Regions from separate parts of the Homo sapiens genome. Here regions 1, 2, 4, 5, 6 and 7 are each linked to region 3. The links come from fine-mapping of genetic effects on gene expression. A gene starts in region 3. Each other region holds a variant in brackets. All regions are shown on one strand. Distances are between the middles of the regions. Region 1 has its middle 36 kb from the start of LPAR1. Region 2 has its middle 110 kb from the start of MIR7702. Region 3 holds the start of LPAR1 (lysophosphatidic acid receptor 1). Region 4 has its middle 41 kb from the start of LPAR1. Region 5 has its middle 110 kb from the start of MIR7702. Region 6 has its middle 110 kb from the start of LPAR1. Region 7 holds the start of LOC105376219 (a long non-coding RNA gene).

What was found. PIP is the estimated chance that this variant, and not a neighbour inherited with it, causes the effect.
Region 1: its variant is fine-mapped to the expression of LPAR1 in whole blood (TOPMed, PIP above 0.99).
Region 2: its variant is fine-mapped to the expression of LPAR1 in whole blood (INTERVAL, PIP above 0.99).
Region 4: its variant is fine-mapped to the expression of LPAR1 in whole blood (INTERVAL, PIP above 0.99).
Region 5: its variant is fine-mapped to the expression of LPAR1 in whole blood (INTERVAL, PIP above 0.99).
Region 6: its variant is fine-mapped to the expression of LPAR1 in blood mononuclear cells (TOPMed, PIP above 0.99). The same link has a PIP of 0.9 or more in T cells, monocytes and whole blood.
Region 7: its variant is fine-mapped to the expression of LPAR1 in monocytes after interferon gamma (Fairfax 2014, PIP 0.95).

The regions. Positions count from the first base shown.
Region 1 is chr9:111,072,040-111,076,108 of GRCh38, reverse strand. No RefSeq gene overlaps it. Among named protein-coding and RNA genes, the nearest start is that of LPAR1, 36 kb to the right of the region's middle. The variant A/C (reference allele first, on the strand shown) is at 1,569.
Region 2 is chr9:111,162,300-111,166,368 of GRCh38, reverse strand. No RefSeq gene overlaps it. Among named protein-coding and RNA genes, the nearest start is that of MIR7702, 110 kb to the left of the region's middle. RefSeq lists an enhancer at 604-4,069. The variant CG/G (reference allele first, on the strand shown) is at 2,552.
Region 3 is chr9:111,036,465-111,040,533 of GRCh38, reverse strand. LPAR1 (lysophosphatidic acid receptor 1) reads left to right here and starts at 2,064. Exons shown (of 6, transcript NM_001351411.2): 1 at 2,064-2,367. LOC124902248 (a long non-coding RNA gene) reads right to left here and starts at 3,606. Exons shown (of 2, transcript XR_007061732.1): 1 at 2,745-3,606; 2 at 1-1,079. RefSeq lists a silencer at 2,295-2,634.
Region 4 is chr9:111,077,448-111,081,516 of GRCh38, reverse strand. No RefSeq gene overlaps it. Among named protein-coding and RNA genes, the nearest start is that of LPAR1, 41 kb to the right of the region's middle. RefSeq lists an enhancer at 3,042-3,091. The variant G/AG (reference allele first, on the strand shown) is at 2,054.
Region 5 is chr9:111,154,260-111,158,328 of GRCh38, reverse strand. No RefSeq gene overlaps it. Among named protein-coding and RNA genes, the nearest start is that of MIR7702, 110 kb to the left of the region's middle. The variant T/C (reference allele first, on the strand shown) is at 1,753.
Region 6 is chr9:111,148,061-111,152,129 of GRCh38, reverse strand. No RefSeq gene overlaps it. Among named protein-coding and RNA genes, the nearest start is that of LPAR1, 110 kb to the right of the region's middle. The variant T/C (reference allele first, on the strand shown) is at 1,857.
Region 7 is chr9:111,284,298-111,288,366 of GRCh38, reverse strand. LOC105376219 (a long non-coding RNA gene) reads left to right here and starts at 3,492. Exons shown (of 2, transcript NR_188622.1): 1 at 3,492-3,747. The variant TC/C (reference allele first, on the strand shown) is at 1,790.

The sequences.
Region 1 (4,069 bases), 36 kb before region 3:
GTGGGAGCTAAATCACAACTTTCAAAAGGTCAATATAAATGTTATTCCCTTAGGGCAACAGAGATGGAATCCTTAAAAATAAGTAAAAATAACCAAAAGTAGACATCTTTTGGAGAATTTTCAGTTCATGGACAGTCCAGAGAGAGTTGTAGGATTTCCTTTCCATCCTACCAGAAGCATACTTTTACTGTCTTCCCCACTAACAAATTCTAATAACTGCTAGGTAAAATGGTGGAAGTACAAAAACAAGAATATCATAGCAGCACAGGTCAAATTTGAGAAAGTTACTTTTCTTACACATTCTATGGCCGTGGGAGGAAATAGGGATATAGACCTGTGGGGAAATAAATGTCTTGGTATAAGAATACACTTAACAGGGGGGAAAGAAGTGACAACCTGTGAGATTTGCTACGTAAGGAGAAAAAAAATCATCTGCTGTCTTCATATCAGGCTTTCGCTCTCCTTTCCAGGCCAAGAGTACGGCTAAAAGTTATTTCTTGCTGAAAGGCTGCTGAGGGAAGGGGAATCCCATAGTTCCAGGGCTTGATTCCTGACTAAAACATTGTCAGTTCAAAACTTCCAGCAGTTCTTTGGTTTTGTGTGTGTGTGTATGGTGGGAATTAGGCAAACATTTTTTTGTTATGGGAAGACCACCACAAATACCCTATTCTGGATTGGAGAGGAGAGAGACCATGTAGTTTCAAGGAACTAAAATACTCTGCTATTCCTTTTTTTTTTTTTTTTTTTTTAAGACAGAGTCTCGTTCTGTTGCCCAGGCTGGAGTGCAGTGTTTCTATCTTGGCTCATTGCAACCTCCACCTCCTGGGTTCAAGTGATTCTCGTGCCTCAGTCTCCCAAGTAGCTGGGATTACAGGTGTGTGCAACCATGCCCAGGTAATTTTTGTTATTTTTAGTAGAGACAGGGTTTTGTCATGTTGGCCAGAATGGTCTGGAACTCCTGGCCTCAAGTGATCCACCTGCCTCGGCCTCCCAAAGTGCTTGGATTACAGGCGTGAGACACCATGCCTGGCCAGTACTCTGCTATTCCTTTTGACATCATTGAGGATAGAGTTGGATCTTTGCAGATTTTGTAACCTTTAAGAAAATGTTGCTTTTCTAAATATGATTTAGACTGTACTGTTTCTTAAATTTATTTATTATTCTTAGGAAGTGTGTGTATGTGTGCTTTCATAGTTATCCACAGGCCACTCACTGGGAGTGGGGTATAGGACTAGGAAAGACCAAAAGCAATGATACGATCAAAGTCTCTCAGAGATCATACTTGGAAACTCATGGTGCTAATTCAGTCAGAATAACCTAGACTTTTGGAAGTATCTTTAAGTCTGACTATTTTATCCTGAAGCTGATAGGCTTTAAATATGTGTTTCCTCTGAATCTCACGTTGAAATGCAATCCCCAGTGTTGGAGATAGGGGCTGGGTGGGAGGTGATTGGAGCATGAGGGTGGATTTCTCATAAATGATTTAGCACCATCCTCTTGGTGCTGCTCTTGCAATAGTGAGTTCTTGTGGGATCTAGTTGTTGTAAAGTGTGTGGCAACTTCCTCTC[A/C]CTCTCTCTTTTGCTTCTGCTGCCGCCATGTGAGATGCCTGTTCCCTCTTCACCTTCTGCTATGATTAGAAGTTTCCTGAGGCCTCCCCAAAAGCTAAAATTGGCACTATGCTTCCTACACAGCCCGCAGAACCATGAGTCAATTAAACTTCTTATAAATTACCCAGTCTCAGGTATTTCTTTATGGCAATTCAAGAATGACATAATACAGATTCTTTTGTTATAGAAGTGAAGTTTCTATTGAAGAGACTCTCTGCCATCAAACAAGAAAATAATCTAGACAGTTTTAAGTTGATCATATCAGGAGATGTGATTTTTACATGTTAACAATTTCTAGAAAATGTAGGTTACATGAACTAGTTGTTAGATATTGAAATTAGAAAATATTAAATGAATTCATATTATAATGTTACACTCTTTTGAACTTTACTCAAAAAGAATCTGAATTCTAGAAATGCTTCTTTTTTATTAGGTAGAAGAGTAACTCTGAACTTGTTTTTTTCTTTCTTTTCCTTTTGTAATAATTTGTTTTACAATATCATAGCAGATGTTTGTAATTTTTTGGCTGCCCAATTTGAACCCTCAACCTATATTTGGAAACTGCTTTATATCTGAGTCTTGGTAGCAGGTTGAACCTGAGAATGTTTCCCAGCAGAAGAGGAAATTCTTGCCACCTATACTGACGGTGCATGTGTGTTTTAAATGAAAATGGAGCATTTTATTGGTTTGTGGCCATTGAGAAAAGAATTATTAGTCAAAAAGTCCCTTTCCAGATTTTTATATTCATCAAATAAAGTCACTGAATATACATTTTGTGGGTTAGTTAAAATCTAGAACATATGCAATTAGAAGATGATCCTTCAACTTTCCTTTACTAGTGAGCTAAAAAATATTTAGAATAATGATTCTCCCTGCCTACATATTGGAATCACTTGGAGAGTTATAGAAAATGCTGATGTCTAAATACTACCCTAGAACAAATTAAATCAGTATCTCTGTGGTTGGGATCTAGGAGCTGGTATTATTCCAAAGCTTCTCAAGGGATTTTAATGCACAATCAGGTTTGTGAATAATTGATCTAGAGCAGAGGTTAGCAAACTTTTTGTAAAGACCAGACAGTAAATATTTTAGGCTTTGCAGGCCTTATAGTCTATGTTGCAACTACTCAACTCTGCCATTGTAGTGCAAAAACGGCCACAGACAATATATAAATAAGTGAGAGTGGCTGTGTTTTGGTAAAACTGTTTACAAAAACAATCCACAGGCCAGAATTAGCCTACCAGCCATGGCTTGTCAACCCTTGACTTAGACTAGAGAGAAGAACAAGAGGATTTTTTAAAGAAAGAGAAACATTTTAGCAATGCTGCAGTAGTACCTTCTGTCTTTTATACTACCCTAAAGATGTTGTTGGTTCATACCCAGAATGCTTTGAAATAAATATGACCTAAATAACAGCAGAAATTACCCATGTCGGAACTTAAACATATGAAAAAAAGTTCAACATCACTGATAATTAGAGAGATGCATATCAAAACCACAATGAGATACCATCTCATGCTAGTCAGAATGGTGGTTATTAAAAAGTCAAGAAACAACAGATGCTGGCGAGGCTGTGGAGAAATAGGAACACTTTTACACTGTTGGTGGGAATGTAAATTAGTTCAACCATTGTGGAAGACAGTGGGGTGATTCCTCAAGGATCTAGAACCAGAAATACCATTTGACCCAGCAATCCCATTACTGGTTATATACCCAAAGGAATATAAATCATTCTATTATAAGGACACATGCACGCATATGTTTATTGCAGCACTATTCACAATAGCAAAGACATGGAATCAGCCTAATGCCCATCAATAACAGACTAGATAAAGAAAATGTAGTACATATATACCATGGAATACTAAGCAGCTATGAAAAGGAATGAGATCATGTCCTTTGTAGGGACATGGATGGAGCTGGAAGCCATATCCTCAGCAAACTAATGCAGGAACAGAAAACCAAACACCACATGTTCTTATTCATAAGTGGGAGCTGAACAATGAGAACACATGGACACAAGGAGAGGAACAACACACGCTGAGGCCTGCTGGTGGGGGTGGAGGTAGGGAGAGCATCAGGATAAATAGCTAATGCATGTGGGGCTTAACACCTTGGTGCTGTGTTGATCTGTGCAGCAAACCACCATGGCACACGTTTACCTATGTAACAAACCTGCATATCCTGTGCACGTATCCTGGAACTTAAAATAAAAAAAGGAATTACCCCGTCCCCTTGTCCTTGAAAACTTACATAAAATCTAAGAATCTTAACTCATGGCCCATATCCCAAGGACTTGGGAAATACAGATTTTAGCCCATGGTTTCACTTATATTCTCAAGATTACTTCTTGTTCCAAAATTGACTGCATCACTTTTCCTATGAGTGATCTCTTCTCTCTCTTCCATGACAACCTTGCTTTCTCCCCTTAATATGTGCATAGCAGGCTCTCCTGAAGTTGT
Region 2 (4,069 bases), 130 kb before region 3:
GAATGGTGGGGCACAGCAGTAATGCAGGTCCCATGGGGTGGGGTCCAGCAGTGACTTGAGTCCAGAGAGATGGAGTTGCTCTCCAGCAACTTGGGCCCAGGGATAGTGGGGTGCTGGGTGTCCCAGGCTTTAGGTGGTAAGGTGAAATAACAGCAAGACCCCAGAAATGGAGAGGTACTATGGCTACCCAGGCAATCAGGGGCGGGGCACAGCATTGGCTCCCTTAGTTGGGCTCAGCACTGGCAAAAACTGCAGGGTGTTGAAGCGTGCAGGTGTCTGCGTGGTGATGAGGGCCACTGGGATCCTCCTGCTTACCTTTTCCCCTTGGAAGAAATCCCTTCTGGCTCTGAGCTGATCCCAACTGAAGAATGGAGTAGTGCAAGCAAGGTGTTTTCTACACAGCCATCTTTGGTGTTTGTGCTTCACTGAGTTTCTGCTACCTCTTTGCTGTACTCCCGAGCTCTCTCCACAATTTCATTGGTATATGGTTATTAGTTGTTTTTGTGGGGGAGATGAAGATTGGCACCTTCTAGTCTGCCATTCTGCTGGTGCTACTCTCTAATAGGCTTTTAAGTGATAAATTTAACATGAATTAAAACTTAGTCAAGGAATGAATTGCCTACAATGAAGTATTTTTGAATCTTTCAAATAACCAAGTCATCTTTGGTTGTTTGGTGTCTTTTCTTTAGCTCACATTCTTCCATCCTGCCTACCCTTCTGAAAGTCTGACATTGATGAAGTCTCCTGAGCATCAGTGCACCTGGTATCTACCATGACAACACTGATGACAATGCTAAAAGATTTTCCAAATCCGCAGACCCTCAGGTTGCCTGAGAGATACTGCAATTCCATCAGTTTTCACCAAATCAAAGCTGTGCTGTGTTGTCGGCACAAAGGAGGAGCCTGTACTCTCCCTTCTCCGTATCACACCTTATCACCTGGGTAATACCATTCGCCTTTGTTTCCTTGGGGAAACAGCTTCTTTACCTCTTTCCTAAAATCCCATCTATTCCAAGGTACAAGGCCAGGAACCAAGACAAAGTTATACCTTATTCCAATTAACCCAATTATAGTTATACCCAATGATCCCATTTAAAGAGCACCCTGGCAAGCAATGTTCATCTGAACTATTTCTTGTTCCACATACAATGAATGTAGAAAAATGGATACCTAAGCTATTAGTCCATTCCTTATCTTCCATGCCCAGATATAAAGGAATCTCTTTAATGATCATCTGCAATACCCACCAACAAATTCATAGGCTGAGTTAGGAATTAATGATGCTCCATTCCCTTGTATCTTTCTGAAAATCTTCTTCAAAGATGGTGAGAACTCTCTACTTCAACACTTACTGTACTGCTACTACTTGTTTGATCATAGCAAAACCATTTTGCTCATAGCCCTCATTTTCTTTCTCCACGCAAGTCACTATCTTTACCTATATTCCAGAGACACAGTGAAGCACAACTAATTGACTCTAGTCAATCTATAGTGAAACAAGTGGCAAGAGAAGCCCAAAAATAAGCATTATGAAAATCTTAAGACTCTAAGCCAGTGAATTAAATAAAGAGGTAAAAGCCTGCATAAGAAAGAGAACTGACCTTCTGAGCTTTTGTCCCTCGGGGAATATTAGTTTTACCTTTTCTGCTAAAATGATGGCAGCTAGGCTGGGAACTTAGGCTAGATTATTTATTTAATGTGACAGCCCCTCCTCTCCTTTCTCTCTCTCCAACCCTTTCCCCATGACCTTTCCAGATTCTTCAAGTTTTTTTTTTTTTATTAAACTTCATCGAAAAATCAGAATTAGGTGAACAGGTATTGAAAACTTGAGTTACCTTTTGTTGCTCTTTGTTTCAAAAAAACGTTTAAATATTTCCCAGATGATCTTTACCTATGGAAATTAACGGCAGCAATTGCAGCCTTTAAAAAATGTTAAATCATCTCACTGATGTTCAGAAAAAACAAAAGTTCTGTAGTTCCAACTGCCTGTGTGGCAGGAGGAAAACTGAATTCTTGAAAAAGTCCTGTTGATTACAGCTTTCTCTTGCTAAAAGACTGATTGCTCAATGGGAAGTGGAAGATCACAAATCTTCCGCTTTTGGAACTAAATGATAATAGAGTTTTAATACCCTAACAAAAATAAAACCTCCTCCTGAGTGAGCTACTCAAACCCTGCATTGCTTGACTAATGTGTTGAGTTAAGTAGGGAGGCCTGCAATGTAGTAATTTCTCCAAGGAGGCTGCAGGGAGAGGAAAGTACATTCCAGACACCTAATCATTTACAATTGAGTTTAATGAGGTAGTAATTTACAGCTTTGGGGGTGGAAGTTTGGAAAGGTCCCTGCCAGAAACTGGACAGACTCTAAAATCCTGGAGTTTAACGAAGGCATTAGAGGGTGGTTTCATACAGCCGAACTTGTGTAATTCCATCTGCTCAGTGCTTGGACAGGAAGTAAATGACAGGGCACTTGGGACCTACATCTGCAAACAACAAGTTTCAGAGATTTTATAAATCCTGCAGTAAAAGGAGAAGAAGAAAAAAGAAAAAAAA[CG/G]GAGGTGAAAGGGCATAATTATGGAGGATGAGGAAGTACAACAAAGAACGGGCTTTGCAGGTTCTTTTTGGTTTGAAAAATAACATTTTCTAATGTCAAGGCCAGCCTTTGATTATAATTGACAAAACACACTTATCAAGCCTGATATGAAAACAGAAGGTACTGAAGCTTCCTTTTTGGACAGGATTTGGATGAAGGCTACAGAGTAGTTCAGGATCCACTGAACTTACCTGAAGATGCCTTTCCAGTCTTCCAGCAGTATAGCTGTTACCTTCTTGTCATCATTTCTTGGTTTGTAATATACTGGGTTAATTTTGCTTTCTGTTCACTGCTGCTTTTTAAGTACAGCTAGCACATGAAAGGAGTCTGCCTTAAAGAGATGGAAAAAGCTCAAGGCACAATGACATGTTGTAAGGGTAAAAAGTAGCTGCTAGACTGGCCTTAATATTATATGCCAATGATTGACATAAATCGGGATTTGTTTCTTCTCACTTAGGCTGAATGTTCTTCATATGGCACTTTATGTTACCCCTATTTCAACTCTCCCAAGAGGAAGTCTCATACTCCCCAGTTTCCAAATCGTCAAAAACATTCTCCTGTTCATGACCAAGGGTTCTCATTCTTTCCTCCTCTTGTTGATTCTGAATATTGGAAAGAAATGAGGTTAGATCAAAGAGAATAGAGAGGAACCATTACATTTCTGGTCATTAAAGAACATCGATCTAGGTTAAAATTCATCCTTTTGTCAGGATGTTATAAAATATTTTAGAAGGAAATACTGTGTGACTATGTGCTAGGCGGGTAAGTGGTGCTAGCAAGAGAAATCAGATGCATTCATAGTGAGCTATGTTACTTCCTGGGATCTCAATCACAGTCACACTCCTAATCATTGATAACAATGTTTGAACATTTACTCTATGCTAGGTGGTTTACGTGCATTATCTCATTTAATTCTTTCAGTAATCCTATGAAAGAGATTACACTTTTACCTCATTTTACAGATGAGCAGACAGGTGCATAGCAGTTAACAGCTCAAGGTCACTAGGATAGTAGGTACAAGGGAGAATTCAAACTCATCTTTTTGCTCATATATAACTCATAGATCAGAAGAATTAAGCCTACAGTCTTACCTCTTTTGATATATTGCCTTGAGTTTCATATGTTTGGATGTCATAGGAACTTTTAAAAGATTTAGCCAGAGTGATGGTCCTGATGACATCAGAGAAACACTTTTGATTCCTCCGAAAAGCAAAAATGTCTATGATACTTAGACTACTGAGTACAGAAAAAAAGGATTTTTTTTGTATCATACTTTTTAAAACCATAGACCTTAATATAGCTCAAAGAAAAAATGAAATTGGTTTTCAAATGCTTTTCTTGTTTTCCAGAGAAGGAGCTGTTTTCCATGTCTTAAGTGTGAATACATTCTTTTGCTGATTAAAAATCATAAACAAGTTTTTTAGTGTCTCAAGATCTATAGTCTATCTTTTGAAAGTCTGGGAAAAATCTCTACACTG
Region 3 (4,069 bases):
AGGTAAGAGACAAAATCAACATATTAAAAATATTCAAGTTGAGTGGTAGGTAAGAAACTCCTTTTACTTTACCTTTGATTTATGGGGAAAGGCTAAACATGGAAATAATTAATTTTAAAATGTCTTTATATTAGATATAGAAGTATTGGTGTTAAGAAATCTGATAGTAAGTACAGTGTATAGGAAGAAAGAGACGGGAAAATTAGCTAATAAGTGATTTTTTGACTTGAGTAGAGCTATGGTTAAAAATATATGGAAACCTCTTTCGAGTATATTTTTTTCTTACCAATATATACTTTTTATGATACTGAGATTTTATAGTGAACATTTGCCTATTCATCCCAATATAATATTTCTTATAGTTTGGTATCAACCCCTATGATTATTTGTGAGATAAGGGAGTGGTTTGTATTCATGGGTATACATATCTATACACATTTCTGCATGCCGTACACAAACATAAGTAGCATTGTGCATGAACATATTAGCACTGTGCATGTACTAAAATTTCAATTTTTTCACATAGTAGGTTATAAAATAAATCATATATTCGTAGGAAAGGTATAGAAAGCAAAGTTATTTAAAGTGGATTTTTAAAAAAGATTTGAATGATTTTTTTTAAAAAAAAGATTAGAACCATTGTTTTTAAAAGGAAACAGCTTTAGATAGTAAATTATTTACAGCCAGGACTCAGCCCTGAGCATCCTGTGAAAACCACACGAGCTTGGTCAAGGTTCTAAGCAGTCACCGGTGGGAGATGGTCATGGTCCCGTCACAGCATAACTCACTTGAGGCTTGAAAAGTTTCCGTCCAGCTACGGTTTGCAGTGACCTTTCTCTTCTGCAAAGCCCACGGTTACCTGGTGGCCACCACCAACATAGCCCCGCCTCGCTGTCCTGCGTTTCTCTCAATCAGATCAGTCCTGCCGAGTCCCCATGCCTTACTGCTGGTGTGCTGTGTCCTCTGTGCCATTTCAAGGCGAGGGCTCATGAAACTTTTACTCACACGCTGCTATTTTTGATATGCGGTGGCCTTAGCTGTGGAGCGAGAGGCCGATAATTGTGATCACTCCGGAAATCCTGGGAAGCCAGAAGTGGGAGATGGGTGTTGTGAGGTGGCGTGGCTAGGGAGACCCCATCGAGTGGGTGTGTTATAAGACCTGGGCGAATCCCTGTGGCTGCCACTCTCCTGAGAATGTTCCCTAGGCCTTAGTCCCGCGCCGCTCCCACCCACACCTCCAGGTGTGCAGTCCCCGCCCTTAATTACTCTCACTAAAATTGATAGTTTACACTTGCAAAGCTACACTGGGAAAGCGGAAGAGAAATTTATAATCGTGGATATGGAGAACTAGGGGAGCAGACACACTTGCTTTCGTTTACAGATCCAGTGAAGTGAAAAATCAGAACTAGAAACGTATGCACCTTCCTAGCAGCAAAGCCGCTTCTGCGTTCTTCGCAGCCTCCAGTGCAGGGCGGCGCTGGGAGAAACTTTGCGCCTTCTGGAAAGTTTAGAAAGTGAGCCACGAAAGAGAGGCCACATTTCCGGGGTTTTGCGGGCCCCGCGATGTTTTCCAGAGCTTTTCGAGTGGGAAGAGGAGAGCGACAACGTGAAAATGCCCCGTGCCGGGGCGTCCACCGGAGTCCTGCCAGCTGTCCGGCGCTGGGGTAAGCGCAGGAGGGGCGGGGGTGGGACCCGAGCTGGCGGCCACGGGTCTCCCGCTGCGGGTGTGTCGACTCGGGGGCGGGGCGGGGGAGGCTGCTGAGATAATGAATGGGAGGCTAAGGCCACCCCCCAGCCCCGGCCCTGCCACCACCGTGGGCTGTCGAGCCAATGAATGGAGGAGGGGGCGCAGAGGTCAGGGGCGCTGGGGGCGCCACACCAGGTAAGGGGTCCAGCTTGGGAGCGGGGAGGGCGGACTCTGGGGGTTCGGGTGTTGCTGACTTGTGCTACGTGGAACAAGCAGAAAAGAAGGAAGGCGGAGGAAGAGAGGAGGCTGGCGTCGGCGCTGCTCCTCTGGCCCTCCCTCTGCGCCCCCTCCTCCTGCCAGCGCGCCAAAGCCGGGCAGTAGGGGCCGACTGGCGGCTGACGCTCCCTGAGTGGCGACTCCGTCTCCAGCCCCGCTGCGGAGCGCGGGCCGGATCTGGGGCGGCCAGGGCCCGGAGCCGCGGAGCCCTCCCCGCCGCCCGGCCGAGCACGGGACCCCGGCGGGGTGGGCGCAGGGGGCGGCCCCGCTCTGGGCGACTGCCGAGGGGCGGGCGGAGGGCCGGGCTCGGCTGGCGGTGGGGCGGGGGCCGCCGGGACTGGGCGCGCGGCCTGAAGCCAGCCCGGGGGCGGCAGGAGAGGGACGCGCGGCGGCAGCGAGCGCAGGTAAGGGGGCCGGCGCGGCGTGTGGGGACGGCGCCCCCTGGGCGCGAAGCCAGAGGCCGCGGCGACTGCTCGGCCCGCCACACGGCGCGCTGGGCTCACACTGTCCCGCCGCGGACGGGCTTTGTGGTTGGGGGCGCGCGTGCGAGTGCCAGTGAGAGTGTGGGTGCGCGCTGTGGGCCGCGGCGCGGGTGGGTGGCCGTGCGTTCTTGCGAGCCGGCCTGCAGGAGGCGAGGCTCCCCTGGCCTCCCGCACCCAGCGGCGGACCGAGCCCCTGGAGGGAAGTTGCCGCAGCCGCCCGGGCCGCCGGCCCTCCTGTCCCGCGCCAGGTCAGTGCGCCCCGGGGCCCGCCCAGTGACACGTAGGTGGCCTCCGGTTACCTGGGTCGGGGTGGGTGCGCGGGAGGGCTTGCGAGGGGCCCTCGAAATTCTCCCAAAACCTCGTCCCGCTGGACTTGCACCTCCGAGGGGTCCCTGCGCCCCTGGGGCTCCGCACCTCTCGCTTCCCACTGACGACTCGGTTGTCCCCCACCACCGGGCTGAGGACTTTTAACTAAGTTTCTGTCCAGCCGCCTAACAAACGTGCTTAACAAGTAACAGGAGGTTGTAAGGCAAGGGAGGGACCTGGCTTTGAAAGTTGATGGTTTTGAAATCGACGGCTCCTTTGACTTGCGTAGGACTCCTTTGTGGTGAATGGATTTAAAGTTTATTCTTGTTTTTCTTTGCTGCCATTTGGTCTTTGCAATGTTAAGAGTGAAGGCATTCAGGACTTGCTGCTGCCTGCTGTCTGGGGCCTGAGGTTGTGGCTCTCCGCTTCTGCTCTCCTCTCTTCATTTTTGTTGAAATCCGTGGATTTTTTCATAAATGTGGGTGCTGGCTTGTTTCACTATGGACGCGTCGTTTCCTATGGGGTTAGATAGATATTGGTAAACATAAATATTGAAAATGTGATGATCACATATTGATGATCACAGCGAAATCCTCTATTCCTTCAGGCTCTAACAGTTTGTTTTTCACGTATTTGCATAAGTGTGTTTGCTCAGCTAAGCATAATTGGTAAGCCAGAGGTCTGTGATTCAGAGTCTGCAGTTCTGGTTAAGGGGAGACTGTACACTTGGAAAATGCGAAGTTTTTTAAGAAGTTATTCCCTTGCCGGATAGAAGAGTGGGTCCCAAGGAAAAAGGGTGTATTTTAGAGGTATGGTTATTTGAACCAAACTAAACATCATTAAAATACACAGGGAGGTAGAATGTCACCTAGTTCTTTCTGCCCTTGATTTCCATATCCCAGTAGGAGCGAGTATAATTGCCCCAAATGCAAAATTATGAATAATAATCAGCATTGTAAGTATATTAAGGTTGCATTTTTTTCTTGATACTTGTCTGATTTGAGGATAAAAACACCAAGTGGCAAGAGAAGGAGGTAGCTTGAGGCAGGAAGGCACGGGCGAGGAGCGAGGAGGGAAGGCTGGGTTGTCATCATCCGAGCCCGCAAGGTACACCACGTCCCCTAGCGGCGCGACCTCAGCCAGTCGGGTCAGCTCAGATCCTGGTCTCCGTCTCCCCATCCGGAAAATGGAAGGGGTTGGTGATCGTTGCTGTTCCTTCCAGCTTCCCAAATAGCGAGAAACCGGTGGGAGGTTATCTTATTGTGTTAGAGCAGTAGGAAAAGGTAGGAGGGGGAAGTGAGAGGTCCAGAGGGCCAGG
Region 4 (4,069 bases), 41 kb before region 3:
CAAAGGGAATGCTTTCAGTTTTCGCCCATTCAGTATGATATTGGCTGTGGGTTTATCATAGATAGCTCTTATTATTTTGAGATACATCCCATCAATACCTAATTTATTGAGAGTTTTTAGCATGAAGTGTTGTTGAATTTTGTCAAAGGCCTTTTCTGCATCTATTGAGATAATCATGTGGTTTTTGTCTTTGGTTCTGTTTATATGCTGGATTACATTTATTGATTTGTGTATGTTGAACCAGCCTTGCATCCCAGGGATGAAGCCCACTTGATCATGGTGGATAAGCTTTTTGATGTGCTGCTGGATTCGGTTTGCCAGTATTTTTTTGAGGATTTTTGCATCAATGTTCATCAAGGATATTGGTCTAAAATTTTCTATTTTGGTTGTGTCTCTGCCCGGCTTTGGTATCAGGATGATGCTGGCCTCATAAAATGAGTTAGGGAGGATTCCCTCTTTTTCTATTGATTGGAATAGTTTCAGAAGGAATGGTACCAGTTCCTCCTTGTACCTCTGGTAGAATTCAGCTGTGAATCCATCTGGAACCAAAAAAGAGCCCACATCGCCAAGTCAATCCTAAGCCAAAAGAATAAAGCTGGAGGCATCATGCTACCTGACTTCAAACTATACTACAAGGCTACAGTAACCAAAACAGCATGGTACTGGTACCAAAACAGAGATATAGACCAATGGAACAGAACAGAACCCTCAGAAATAACGCCACATATCTACAACTATCTGATCTTTGACAAACCAGAGAAAAACAAGCAATGGGGAAAGGATTCCCTATTTAATAAGTGGTGCTGGGAAAACTGGCTAGCCATATGTAGAAAGCTGAAACTGGATCCCTTCCTTACACCTTATACAAAAATTAATTCAAGATGGATTAAAGACTTAAACGTTAGACCTAAAACCATAAAGACCCTAGAAGAAAACCTAGGCATTACCATTTAGGACATAGGCATGGGCAAGGACTTCATGTCTAAAACACCAAAAGCAATGACAACAAAAGCCAAAATTGACAAATGGGATCTAATTAAACTCAAGAGCTTCTGCACAGCAAAATAAACTACCATCAGAGTGAACAGGCAACGTACAAAATGGGAGAAAATTTTCGCAACCTACTCATCTGACAAAAGGCTAATATCCAGAATCTACAATGAACTCAAACAAATTTACAAGAAAAAAACAACCCCATCAAAAAGTGGGAGAAGGATATGAACAGATACTTCTCAAAAGAAGACATTTATGCAGCCAAAAGACACATGAAAAAATGCTCATCATCACTGGCCATCAGAGAAATGCAAATCAAAACCACAATGAGATACCATCTCACACCAGTTAGAATGGCGATCATTAAAAAGTCAGGAAACAACAGGTGCTGGAGAGGATGTGGAGAAATAGGAACACTTTTACACTGTTGGTGGGACTGGAAACTAGTTCAACCATTGTGGAAGTCAGTGTGGCGATTCCTCAGGGATCTAGAACTAGAAATACCATTTGACCCAGCCATCCCATTACTGGGTATATACCCAAAGGACTATAAATCATGCTGCTATAAAGACACATGCACACGTATATTTATTGTGGCACTATTCACAATAGCAAAGACTTGGAACCAACCCAAATGTCCAACAATGATAGACTGGATTAAGAGAATGTGGCACATATATACCATGGACTACTATGCAGCCATGAAAAAGGATGAGTTCATGTCCTTTGTAGGGACATGGATGAAAGTGGAAATCATCATTCTCAGTAAACTGTTGCAAGGACAAAGAACCAAACACCGCATATTCTCACTCATAGGTGGGAATTGAATAGTGAGAACACATGGACACAGGAAGGGGAACATCACACTCTGGGGCCTGTTGTGGGGTGGGGGGAGGGGGGAGGGATAGCATTAGGAGATATACCTAATGCTAAATGATGAGTTAATGGGTGCAGTGCACCAGCATGGCACATGTATACATATGTAACTAACCTGCACGTTGTGCACATGTACCCTAAAACTTAAAGTATAATAATAAAATAAAAATTAAAAAAAAAAAAA[G/AG]AAAAGCTGGTTAGGTAAGGCTGGGCGCGGTGGCTCACGCCTGTAATCCCAGCACTTTGGGAGGCCGAAGCGGGCGGATCCCGAGGTCAGGAGATCCAGACTATCCTGGCTGACACGGTGAAACCCCGTCTCTACTAAAAATACAAAAAATTAGCGGGGCATGGTGGCACGTGCCTGTAGTCCCAGCTACTCGGGAGGCTGAGGCAGGAGAATGGCGTGAATCCGGGAGGCGGAGCTTGCAGTGAGTCGAGATCGCGCCACTGCACTCCAGCCTGGGCGACAGAGCGAGACTCCGCCTCAAAAAAAAAAGAAAAAAGAAAAAAAGAAAAGCTGGTTAGGTAAGATGATTACCTTCTTTTAGCCTGGAAGCTGTAGTTAACCCTGACCTTTGAGAGTAGAGCAGAGGGTAGTTAACAGGTGCTAGAGCCAGATTGTCAGTCCCTGGCTGTGTGACCTTGAGCATCTTTCTAAGCTTCAATTTCAACATCTGTAAAATAAGGATGTGATAATAAATGTTTCTATTTCTAGAATTAGTTAAAAAGGAAATGAGATAATCTGTGTGAAATACTCAGTGGCTCACACATAGTAAGAACTCAAAAAGTCCTGCCATATATTGCTGAAATTGGAGAAGAACTTGGAGTGGAGAATGAAGATGATTTCTTGGTTCTCCATGAACACTGCACTTAACTCCCAATATAGGGTTTCCCAACTAGATTGAGCTACTTGTTAGCTTCCCCTAATTGCCTACATTATCTTTTTTCTTTGTTCTTTTTTGTTTCCCTAAGGGCCACATTTCCCCCACCTCCTCTCTGGAAATTGAACTGCAGAAGTTGTAATAGGTATGTGCAATAGGAAATGCTATGTAGGGCAGATTGACTGTGGCTAAAGCCCGGAATTCCCCCAAAAGAGGATGAGAAAGGTTACTGAGTTAGAAAATGTGGCAAGCAGAAGATGTTGAGGGGCATGGAGTAGTGGCCACAGGGAACTTGTGGAAATGATGTTAACACAGTGGTGACAGCAAAAGTTTGAAGACACTGGGAGGGTAACTATGGGCTTGAGGGGCAGAGTAAAAATACATTTCTAGGTCTGAGAATGAATAAATGAGTCATGAGATTTAAGGAGGTCAGATAATAAATTCAACTAGTGGCAGCCCAGTGGGATGCCCAGTGGGAAACAGAGGAGTCACAAAAGGTTTCACCACCCAAAGATCTTGAAAAGAAACTTTATTTATTTTATTTTATTATTATTATTTTTTTGAGATGGTGTCTCGTTTTGTTGCCCAGGCTGGAGTGCAGTGATGTAATCTCAGCTCACTGTAACCTCCACCTCCCAGGTTCAAGCAATTCTCCCACCTCAGCCTACCGAGTAGCTGGGATTACAGGTGCCCACCACCACGCTTGGCTAATTTTTGTATTTTTAGTAGAGACAGGCTTTCACCATGTTGGCCAGGCTGGTCTCAAACTCCTGAACTCAGGTGATTCACCTGCCTTGGCCTCCCAAAATGCTGAGTAGGAAACTATATTTATTGGGCAGCTGTTATATGCTAGTTAGTGTCACATATATGTCACCTCACATAATCCTCACAGCAACACTGTGGGGTAGGTACTCTTATCCCATCCATTTTGAATGAATAGAAGTGCATTTTGAATAATAACTTTTCAAGGTCACATAACTAGTCAATGTTAGAATTAGCCATGTTATTTCATTCACTTTAAGATAGTTACTTGCCTTCTGAAAAATCTGTAAAAGAATTCATTTTATTTTATTTTATTTTATTTTATTGATACACAATGTACATATTTTCAGGGTGTATGTAATATTTTGATATGTTCATATAATATAAAACAATCAAATCAGGGTAATTGTGATATCCTTCACCTAAAACATTTCTCTTTTCCTAATGTTGGGAACATTTTAATTATTTTCTACTGGCTATTTTGAAATACACAATTAATTATTTTTTACTATAGTCACTCTACTGCTTCATCAAACAGTAGGCTTATTTCTTCTATCTAA
Region 5 (4,069 bases), 120 kb before region 3:
GAGAATACATAGTCTTAGTAGAAAAATACAGATGACTATAAAGACCCAAACAAAAAGAGTCACTGGATATTTACATACATATATTTATCTAGTTGGAATCATACAGAATGTAATTTTGTATATTAATTTTTATGTGATATCTTGAACTTTTTCTCTCAAGATTACAAATTTTCAGGATATGATTTCAATAGTTTTATAATATTATATAGCTGTGTTTTTTTCAGTTTCCCATGTTGTCTTGAGGATTCATAGAGATGAGAGTCTTGGGGGCTACCAAAGGCTTTGGGGAAGCAGGAACTGGGAGTGCAGTAATTGAGTCAACTGGCTCCAGGATCCCCTTGGACTTTTCAGAGTCCACATTTGACTAATTTTTATACTGGGCTTCTGCGCAAAATTCTCCCTGAAGAAGAATTCCCAAACATGTTAAAATTTGAAATCATTATTGGTAAGTTATAATTTCACATTTGTTGCACATCTAGTGTTTCTATAGTTTAGTGTCATGGAGCACTTTGTACAAACATACACACATACGCACACACGCACACACACACTTATTTCTTCAGGATATATAAATAGATATAGAATTACTGGGTCAAGTAATATATACTGTTAAATTGTGCTAAATATTGTCTGGAGAGTGGTTATGCAACTTCAACTTCTAACAGCAGTGTATAAAAGGACCCATCTCATAACACACAAATCACCTTTTCTTGGTTGTCATTTTCTATTTTGAAAAGTAACATATCACTGCTATTTTAATAAGCAATTGTTTTATGGTGAGGCTAAATTTTATTTACATGTTTATTAGTAATATTTTCTTGCCTGAATTTACTTGCTCATATTTCTTTGCTAACATTTCTATTGGAGCATTAGTGTTTTCCAGTGGATTTTAAGATTTACAGTTGACCTTTGAACAACACAGATTTAAACTTCAAGGGTCTACTTATATGCAAATTTTTTTCAACAAATGTACAGATCAAAAATATAGCATTCACAGATGCAAAACCTGAGTATGGAGTGCTGACTTTTTATACATGCAGGTTCCACAGGCTGACTGTGGGACTTGAGTATGCATGGGCTTGGGTGTGGGGCAGTCCTGGAACCAATCCCCCCCGCATATACCAGGGATGACCATATAACTGTGCTTTGTATATTAAAGGTATTAACCTTTTGTCTTATTTATGGCTATTTTTCTAGTTTGTCACTTAAGTGTTAATGATTTTTTAGTATCATTTAACATATTTTAAGCAATCTGATTTGTCGATCATCTGCTTTATGACTCCTTCTATGGCTTTTACACTTAGAAAATCTCTTTCCATTCACCTATAATTTCTAGTTTCATTAAAAATATTAATAGCACTTTGGGAGGCCAAGGCGGGTGGATCACGAGGTCAGGAGATCGAGACCATCCTGGCTAACATGGTGAAACCCCGTCTCTACTAAAAATACAGAAAAATTAGCCAGGTGTGGTGGCGGGCACCTGTAGTCCCAGCTACTCGGGAGGCTGAGGCAGGAGGATGGCTTGAACCCGGGAGGGAGAGCTTGCAGTGAGTCGAGATCACACCACTGCACTCCAGCCTGGGCGACAGAGCAAAACTCCGTCTCAAAAAAAAAAAAAAATTAATATTAATTCATAAGAATGTATTAGGGACTAAGATGTGTTTTATTTGTAATTCGTAATAGCTAACTTTTATGTTATTTTTTGAATGATCCATACCAATTTCATTGAATTATTAATGTATGGGAATGTAA[T/C]TAACTTTATATAGTGACCTTTTATCCAACTATCTTCCTAAACTGTATTGTTTTCTCTGATCATTTATTTGAAGAGTTTCTTGGAGTTTCTAGATGGAAAAAAACTATCAGAAAATAATTATTGTTTTGTTTCTTTCTCTACAACCTGCATGCCAGTTATCTTTTCTTCTTTCCTTACCCTTCTGGCTGGGGTCAGTACAGTGTTGAATTGAATTACTGATAGTGGGTATCTTTGTCACGTTCCTGTCTTCAAAGGGAATGATCTAACTTCTTGCCATTTGGGGTGATTGTTGTAAGTTTTCATTAGATTCTGCTTATCAGGTTAAGAAAGTTCATTTTAATTTTTATTTGCTAAGAGTTCTTTAAAATTGTGAATTATTTTTGAATAATAAAAAATAAATTTTCCCCATCCATTGAAATATTCATTTCTTTTCTTTTGCTAAAGTAGTCGGATTATACTAATTAGGTTTTCTGGTGTGAACCCATCTGAAATTGGACTCAATGCATTATTTATTTTATACGTTGCTGGTTCAATTTAATCATAATTGATGTAGGTACTTTTAAATTTATGTTTTAAAATAAATCTGGCTTATTTTTCTCACAGTACTTGAGTATGTTTTTGGAATCAATGTTATATAAGCATCATAAAACAAGTTGGAGGCTGGGCGCTGTGGCTCACACCCGTAATCCCAGCACTTTGGGAGGCTGAGGCAGAAGGACCACTTGAAGGCAAAAGTTTGAGGCTGCAGTGAGCTATGATAGCAACACTACACTCCAGGCTGGGTAACAGAGCAAGACCCTGTCCAAAAAAAAAAAAGCCATCTGGAAACTTCCAGCCACAGTTGCACTGCTGTAGTCAACACAATGTAAGGTAGAAATAAACTGTCTATTCTGAGCCCTACCAAAATTTTGGAATCATGAGAAGCAGTAAATGATTGTTTTGTATTAAATTCTAATGTGTCCTTGGGTCTGTTTCTGTCTCATCATTTAGTATGATTGTATCATCTGCCTTCTCTGTTTATATCTCATATGGTTCTTAATATTGTTTCATTATATTTTAGAATCTGTTAATGCAATTCTCCCTGCTTATTCTTGTTGTTCAAGATATTAGAGCAGGAGTCTCTGAGCCTACTCTGGCTCAAGAGATTACCTGATCAAAAAGAAAAAAAAAATTATCGCTATTACTGTCTGTTTTGCTTTCAGGTGAATTTCAGAATGGTTTTGTCAGTTTCCTAAACCCTTTGGAATTTTTATTAGAATTGCATTAAATGTGTAGATTATTTTGGGAAGAATATTTGCAAGATTTTCTTTACAACATGGATTGGTCTTTTCAATATCTTCAAATATTGTTACATTCCTCAATAATCTTTGTAGTCATTACATATTTCATGCAATCACGCATTTATTCATTCATTACTAATCCAGAGGGCACAATTCTTTTTTTCTTTCTTTTTGTGAGATCAAGTCTTGCTCTGTCGCCCAGGCTAGAGTGCAGTGGCACAATCTCAACTCACTGCAACCTCTGCCTCCCAGGTTCAAGCAATTCTCCTGCCTCTGACTCCTGAGTAGCTGGGACTACAGGCTTGCACCATCACGCCTGGCTAGTTTTTGTATTTTTAGTAGAGATGGGGTTTCATCATGTTGGCGAGGCTGGTCTTGAACTCCTGACGTGAAGTGATTCACTCACCTCAGCCTCCCAAAGTGCTGGGATTGCAGACGTGAGCCACCATGCCTGGCCACAACTCTTATTAAGCTCAAATTTGTAGCCTACTGCTATCTAGTGTACAGGATTTTATAGAATGTGCTTCATGTATTAATTCTGTCACCTGGTAGTAGTTAATCTCTACTTTTATTTCTCAACTTCATACATTTTTCTATGTTTTATTTTATTGTGATACCCGGAATGATACTGTGTACACTAATGGCTGAGCCTTTATACTCCCCTCTTCCTTGGTCATTGAATGGCCAATCTGAGGTTTCCCTGAGAAGGGTAAGACCTTGGGCAAAGCAACTCTAGGCAGCTGAGGCTGACCCTGAAGGAGGTGTCAGCTGGAGGCTCACCAATGACCACATTCCCCATAGCTGGGCAGCAAGTCCTTTCTTGAAAGGTGACCTGGGTCATGCATTGCTGTGTTCACCACAGCCTGGTTCTGAGAAACTTGGGAAAGTCACATCCCTGGCCCTGTCATGTGGGATGGATGAGGTGGTTCTCTGTAATATCTGCCCCTTCTCATTGTTCCAAACACTGCATTTTTCTCAACCACAGCTTTTCCTCTTTCCCCTGATGGGTGTTTATTTAAATTGCTTTAAAGTCACT
Region 6 (4,069 bases), 110 kb before region 3:
CAAGGTAGGTGGATTGCTTGAGCCCAGGAGTTTGAGACCAGCCTGGGCAACATGGTAAAACCCTGTCTCTACAAAGAATACAAAAATTAGCTGGGCATGGTTGCATGCACTTGTGGTCCCAGCTACTCAGGAGGCTGAGGTGGGAGGGTCACTTGAGCCCAGGAGATTGAGGCTGCAGTGAGCTGAGATCGTGCCACTGCACTCTAACCTGGGTAATGGAGTGAGACCCTGTCTCTAGGTAAGTAAATAAGAAAATAGTCTTAACATGGAAATTATTGGTAAATAACTATGAGTTTTTAAGGAATCTTGCTACATACTATCAAGTTTCTTCCTAAAATACTATTGTACTTTTGGCCACCATCCCTTGTGGATGAAGAGTGCTCATTCTGATGGACAGTTGCCAGTAGAGGGCCTCTTGTGTTTGTTTTCCTTTAATAAAACAGCTGAAAATTTACATATTATCACTGTCATGATAATTTATCATAATTCGTTATAATTTATAAATTATGATAATTTGTATATATCTGTTTAATATACTGATGCATTATGTATGGATATAATATATCTATTATACATAATATATAGATATATCCATATATTATATCAATATATAATATAATTATACATATATATTATCGATGTAATATATAATGATATATATAATATATGACATATGATATATAATGATATATATGTGATATATATCATGGATATATATTTATAATTATATAAATTATGTAAATATTTAAATATAAATTTATATATTTGTAAAAATTTATGTTTATAGATTTTTATATAATTATAAATATATTATAAATATATGTAAATATTTAATATAATGCATAATATGATTATATAAAAATATGATATAATACATATTGACATATAGATATATATCACATATATCATATATCAATGTCATATATCATATATTGACATATATATCATATATACTGACTTATATATCAATATATATCATATATATAAAACCTTGAAAACCATAGCATCTTCAGTATTTTTGAAGGCCTATTTTTTATTATTTAAATATTTATGATCTAATATTAATAATGTATTTTTTTTTCTTTTATTTTGAGACAAGGTCTCACTCTGTTGCCCAGGCTGGAGTATAGTGGTGTGATCACAGCTCACTGGAGCCTTGACCTTCTGGACTCAAGTGAACCTCCCATTTCAGCCTCCTGAGTAGCTGGAACTACAGGCATGCATCACCACACCCAGCTAACTTTTGTATTTTTTGCAGAGATGGGGTTTTGCCATGTTGACCAGGCTGGTCTTGAACTCCTAGACTCAAAGGATCTTCTCATCTTGGCCTCCCAAAGTGCTGGGATTACAGGTGTGAGCTACTGTGACTGACTGTATGTAATAATATTTTAAGATAGGTACTACTTATTATTTTTCCCTATGTGTAAGTATTTTAAATGTTAAAAAAATTTTAGGATAAGAACTATATTTTGTTTTGCTAATAAGCAGAAAAACAGAGACTTAGAGAAGCAGAGCTAGGATTCGAATCAAGTATATATGACTCCAAAGCCCAGACTCCTATTCATTAGAGCACAGTACTTTAATAAGTTCACATCTGTGAGTCCTTTTCAGAGTCATTAAACTCTGTTTAGCTCTCAGCATTTTGTATATTTTGGCTTGTTTTCTTTTAAATACCATATGGCTTTTTAAGAATGGAGATATAATCTTACAACTAATCACTATCCTAAGAAAATTAATAAATTTTGCTGAGCTGATAGTAAGAGTAACTGATAGTAAAAGTGACAGTAATTGGAAACATTTGTAAGATATTTCACATTTCGCAAACTGTTTTTCACATGTCCACATTTGCAACATAT[T/C]GTGAAACAAAAATATAGTTTACGAAACAACATGTATTGCTGATGCTAATAAGTTTTCCAAAATTCATACAATGGTGAGGTTATAGGTAATTTTTAATTTTTATAATTTTTCTTTATTTAAAAACTGTAGACTTACGTATCCTTTTAATAATAATTACATTTAATCTTTTATAAATTTTTACGGCATCCTAAAGAGATTGAAGGTAAACACCAGACTTAACATTTTTAAAAAGTTAAATATATTTTTATGTATAGAACTTCTGTGATTTTATCAGGAACACATTAGATGCCTGTAGTTGAATGGCCAAAATTTATGACATTCATTTCTCATAGCAATCTGAAGTAGATACGATAGTTATTTTTTTTTTTTTTACGAATGAAGAAACTACAATTTAGAGATGTTTGAATGATTTTTCCCAAACTCAGACAATTAATAATTTATGAAGCCAGAACTAGAAGAAACATTTTCTAAATATGAACAAGCAGCTGTAGACTCTTAACCCCATTATTATTCCATATTGAGGGCCAAACATAACCAAATAAAGCAGCTACGGTCCCCTGCAACCAGGAAAATGAGGAGAAAATGCCCTGGAGAAAATGAAGTCAGAACTTGGAAAATCAAGTGGTGATGGGATCCCCGTAGGTTGCTATCTGCTGATGGGTGTGCCCTTTCACAGTGGAGCCAGGGGTGTCAGGACACCCTGAAAATCCAGGGGTGTGGTACTCATGGAAAGAACAACTCTAGCTGGCCTCTGGCCTCCCATGCCGCAGGGCCAATTCTTGCTGGGTGTGCTCCAAATTACCCCAAAAGGTGACAGCAACAACTGTGCTAGTGTGTCAGCCTTGGAGCCAGGCTTTCTCCTGACTCACATAAACATGGCCCAAATGTGCAGCTCTAGAGCCAAGCCTCTGTTCCCTACTCAAAAATTCTGGATAAACTAGTTAGTTCTTTCAAATCCAGTTGCTTAAAATGACTTACCTTGCTTTACATATGTTCATTTCTCTCCTGCGTCTAGGTAACAGCTCTCCTATGAAGCAGTCATTCTAGAGCACTTGTTAAAAACTCCTGTTCTAGAGTGGCACTAGGGGGAGTCAGGCTGGTTCCTGAGCTTGCTCAGGTTCTGCTGTGATGTGTTGGACAACCAGATGGGCCTAGGTCTCATCTTCACTAATATCCAGAGAACTTTGCAATTGGAAAATAAATCCAAATACCCCAAGTGATGTAGGTTGAGATGTACCAGTGTGGGATCCGGGATGTGAACTAGGGAAGTATTAAATTCTAAGTCAGTGCTGGTAGTGGATATGGAGAGGTTAAGCTTCCTTGTGAAATACTAGATTCTGGGGATGAGAAGGGGAGCAGATAGAACCCAGGAAATTTTGGTTGAAATATTAAGATGGTCACAAGACAGAGTTGGAATTACAAAACAAGAGAGGCAGAAGGAAGTGAAAAACTGAGTGGTATTTAGCAAGTAAATGGTATTTAGTGTCTTGTTAAGTGTGCAGAAAAATGTGAGTATGCTTGTAGTGTTTGTTTGTTTAATTTTTTGCTTTGATTTTAGGCCGTTTAGCATCCATTCCAGTTTCTTTTGGTAATAGCATCTGAATTTCCATTTGGAAATGATCTTTCTCCATCGTATACAGTCTAATGGGCAAGGAAGGCCAGTTGGAAATTATCTGTCTGAAATTTAGATTATGAGCAGAATGATGAAAGTCTGTTAATTATTGGCGTTCTTTCATGACCGCATCACTCCCTGGGGCAATGCTACACTTCCTGCCACTACACTCTCTGGAGCAGTCTAGTTTCTGTATGTTCTGTGCCTCGTTTCCTTCAATCCTGTGAGTCCTGTGAGCTCCCCTACATCTTTCCCATAAATTCCCCATTTGCTTAAGTTAGAGTCAGTTTCTGATCACAACCAAAGAATCTTCACGAATACTCTCATACTCCAGATTAGGTAAAGTAATTGAAGGTGAACCTTGTGATGTTCACAGTGTTAGCAGTATACCGAAACAACATAGCCTGTTCTGTTTTTGAGAGAATGAAGCTGTAACGCCAAATATTTAAAACGGTCAGGAGTGGAGGAGGTCACTGGAGGCTAATATAGCAATGTAATATAGTTACTGCCTAATTTATTTAGAGTTCGGCCTGAGGATGTGAGTTGATTTCTTTTTCCCTCCAGCATTTTATTATCCAAAATTTTCAAACATATGACTAA
Region 7 (4,069 bases), 250 kb before region 3:
TCACCATGTTGTCCAGACTGGCCTTGAACTCCTGACCTCAGGTGATTCACCTGCCTTGGCCTCCCAAAGTGCTGGGATTACAGGTGTGAGCCACCATGCCCCACCTCACACACATTTTCATAAGTGTGTTTATGTGATAGGAATTGAGTGGATCAAAAATATAAGATAAAATTTGAGTAAGGAACTAGAATGAACATTAGTGTAGGGTTTGGACACACGGTAGAAGGTGGAGATGGGGGTGTAGTTCTGGGAGCATGATAATTTTCTGTTTGGCTCTTATCATTGGCTTCTGCTGGGATCAGTTTATGTTTGGGAGTAAAAAGCACACACTGCTTCTCTTCCCTCTCCTCTGTGTTCTCCTTCCTCATTACTTCATCTGTTATCTTACGGGTAATCACATGTTATCTTACAAAAGCACTCTTTTGCTTAAAAGCCTTCCTTTTCTATGCAAAGAATTAATTTAATTTTTTTTTTTTTTTTTTTTTTTGAGACAGGGTCTCAGTCTGTTGCCCAGGATGGAGTGCAGTGGTGTGATCATAGCTCACTGTAACCTTGAACACCCGGGCTCAAGAGATCTTCCTACCTCAGCCTCCTGAGTAGCTGGGATTACAGGCATGTGCTTCTATACCCAGCTAACTTTTAAAATTTCTGTAGAGACAGAGGTCTCACCATGTTTCCCAGGTTGGTCTCAAACTCCTGGCCTCAAGAAATCTTCCCACCCTGGCCTCCCAAAGTGCTGGGATTACAGGAGTGAGCCACAGTGGCTGGCCAAAGAATTGATTAAATTTTTTTTTAAAAGGAATAGTCTCACACAATGATCTTAGAATATGTGTGTGTATATATATGTATACATATGTATGTGTGTATATATATATAAATATATGTGTGTATATATCTATATATCTATATGGACACTTTATCTGTAGATAGTTGATGAACTTTGAGATATGTCATGGCTAAGTGGCAGGAAATGATTGAGCCACCTCAAAGGAGTGACTCAAGGTTGCCTTGAAGCTTAGCAGAACCTTTGCCAGAAGGACGCTGGCCCCTGTGTGAATGCATTCCAATGCTTCCAATGCATTCCAGTGCTTCCAGCCTGAAGCATTTGAGGCAGAGGGAGAAAGATCATCAAAAGGCCTGGAGATCCATCTTTGAGAGAGTTGATTTCTCTACTGAATGTGCGCTAGGAAGGCTAGGAAGGCCAGACAAGAGGTCAGACCCTCTGTTCCTCAGGCTGTATCATTAGGAGAAAAGTGAGGCTGCCCCATGTGGAGAAATCCTCTATCTCAGGTGAGAATCCTGCTACTGTCTTGAAAGGTGGCTCAGCTGTTCAGAGGGATCTGCTCAGCAGGACTGGTTTTACACCCTTCAGCAAGCCACATTGGCATAGACGAAACAGTATCACTGTCCTTGATACGGCACCACCTAGAACAAGGTGCTTAAACTGTGGCTGCACCTAAGAATCACCTGGGGAAAGTGTTAAAAACAGATTTGTGGGCCTCACCACAGACCTACTAAATCAGAGCAAAGGAAAATGAGGTAAACCTAAGACATAAATTGTGCACATATTTGTACCTTGTTGAACATATAGCTCATCTTGCTAACCAGTCATTGTGATCGAGTAAAAGGTGGCATTGTAGTCTAGTGAAAAAGCACGGGAGACTAATCACCAGAGAAACTCACGTGTAAATAACACTCAATTATGTAATAGTTCAATGACCTTACACATTTTACTTAACCTTCAGAGCTTCAGTTTATTTATCTCTTCTCTCTCTCTTTTTTTTTTTTT[TC/C]CTCTTTTTTGAGATGGAGTCTCGCTCTGTCTCCCAGGCTGGAGTGTGGTGGCGGGATCTCGGCTCGTTGCAAGCTCTGCCTCCCGGGTTCACGCCATTCTCCTGCTTCAGCTTCCCGAGTAGCTGGGACTACAGACGCCCGCCGCCACCAGCTGATCCTATCAGCTAGGTAGATCCTATCTCTACATAAAAATAAAAATATTAGCTTGGTATGGTGGCGCATGTCTGTAGTCTTCGCTACTTGGGAGGCTGAGAGGAGAGGACTGCTTGAGCCCTGGAGTCTGAGGCTGTAGTGAGCTATGATCAAGCCACTGCACTCCAGCCTGGGCGACAGAGCCATGCCCTGTCTCTAAAAAAAAAAAAAAAAAAAAAAAAAGCAATAGGAACTGAGAAAGTTTAAGTTTCCGTCTCCTTCGGTGTGGATCCAAAGAAACAGACCTTCTGAGTTTCACTGTAACTATATTGTACGGAATTTGTATGTTCTGTACGTAACAATTCTACCATATTGAGTAAGAAGTTTGTGATATTCTGCTTTGCTTCCATTGTATTACAGAAGTTAAAAGCATATTCCTTTGAATGTGCTTTTTTAAAAAAATGATTTCCCAAGGTGAAATAGTAAAGTTTATTCATCCGCCAAACAAATTAGCTGAATACTATGTTGTTCCTTGCACATGGCAAATTTTATGAGTGGACTTGGAAAACAGATTAAAACTATGAAGTACAAAAAAGTTTCTTTACTTTGACATGACACTAAGCGAGACTTAACTGTGTTTCTTCATATGCCAGTAAATTTACAAGCTTTTCAAGTTTGGAATGTCATTTTTTTATTCCCACCTCAGTAGGAAAGGTGTTGTATTTTAGGTACCTATTAGTTGAAAAGAATGTGTATACCATATTGATTTGCAGACAACTTGCAGCCCTCCACAATCTCAAATTTCTCAGATTGGGAAATATTGTCTTTTGGGAGACATTTTGGGATTGAAGGAGACTTATTTAGGTCAGAAAATTCAAATCCTCTCCTTAGTTTTATGCTGCAGATTTGTTTTTAGGACATTGGAGCTTTCTCACATTCCAGATGAATCCTTAACATTCAGATAATGGGGACCAGTTTCAGCACCTGCACCTGCAGGTTCAGCACTCAGTTGGGGTCAGATGGAAGGGCATTTTTATATCTTCCTATTTGATCTATCACAATCTATACCGAACAGTGTCTCCCAGGTATACTGGCCAGTCAATGGGTCTGTAATTTGCTGTTTCTACAGTAAAAATATGAGAAAAGCATTACATTTGTTAGGTCACAATAATGACTCACAAATCCTTTCAGTAAGTGTGTGTTTGGCGGGGCGGGGGTTAAGAGAGGGAGCAGGGGGAGTATGTACTTTTTGCTTTGCCTAATTTTGGCTCGTTGGTAATGGTAATAGTGTAAATGTGTTTTTCTTTTTATTATAACCCAAATGTTGGAACTCATCGGAGAAATCCATACATCTAAAAATCAATGCAAAATACAAAAGTCTAACTCAAAAACATTTAAAAAATGATGATCCTTACTATTGTTTTCTTGTGAAGATGGGGGAAGGGTTTCAGTGCATACGTTAGAACAAAACTCCCTAAAAGTCCTCTGTAAGCATCTTTCTTCCGTAAAGTTAGTTTCACTCCACATAGCAGCTGCTCTATTTCTTCCCTTTTCACTTTCTCTTTCCCACCATTTGCCTGAAGCTCCTCATCCCCTTCCTTGTGCCTCCTCAGAATTCTACCAGTGCACCTCATTCAGACATTCATCAAGAAAAAGGCCAGCTGAAGGCAGACAGCCAACAAAACTCAGTCGTTAGCCACAGCCCTGGCTGTCCTCGTCCATCAAGCCTGCCCATTGTGAGCTTCCATTCATCTTACCTGTCTGTTATGGAAGAGTGAAGTGGAAAAGGCATGGAGGACTCAGAAGACCTGCTACCGAGAAGAGGTGTGGTACAGTAAGCTTATTTAATGCTGAGCCCCATCTTCCTCATTCTACAATGAGGCTAGTAATTCCCACCTTACCAACCCGATAGGGCTGTATAAGGGCCAAATTCAATGATGCATGTGGTGAAAGTGCTTTAAGAGCTGGAAACACTTTAATACTGCTATGAGATTTAGAATAAGAATGTGATCACTGGACGGGGGTCTTAGAGTTATCTAGTCCTACCCTTTACTTTAACAACGACAAAATTGACAACCCAGGAAGTGTTGTAACTCACTCAAGGCCATATAGGCAGGTAGAAGCAAAACCAGGTTAGAGCTAGTTT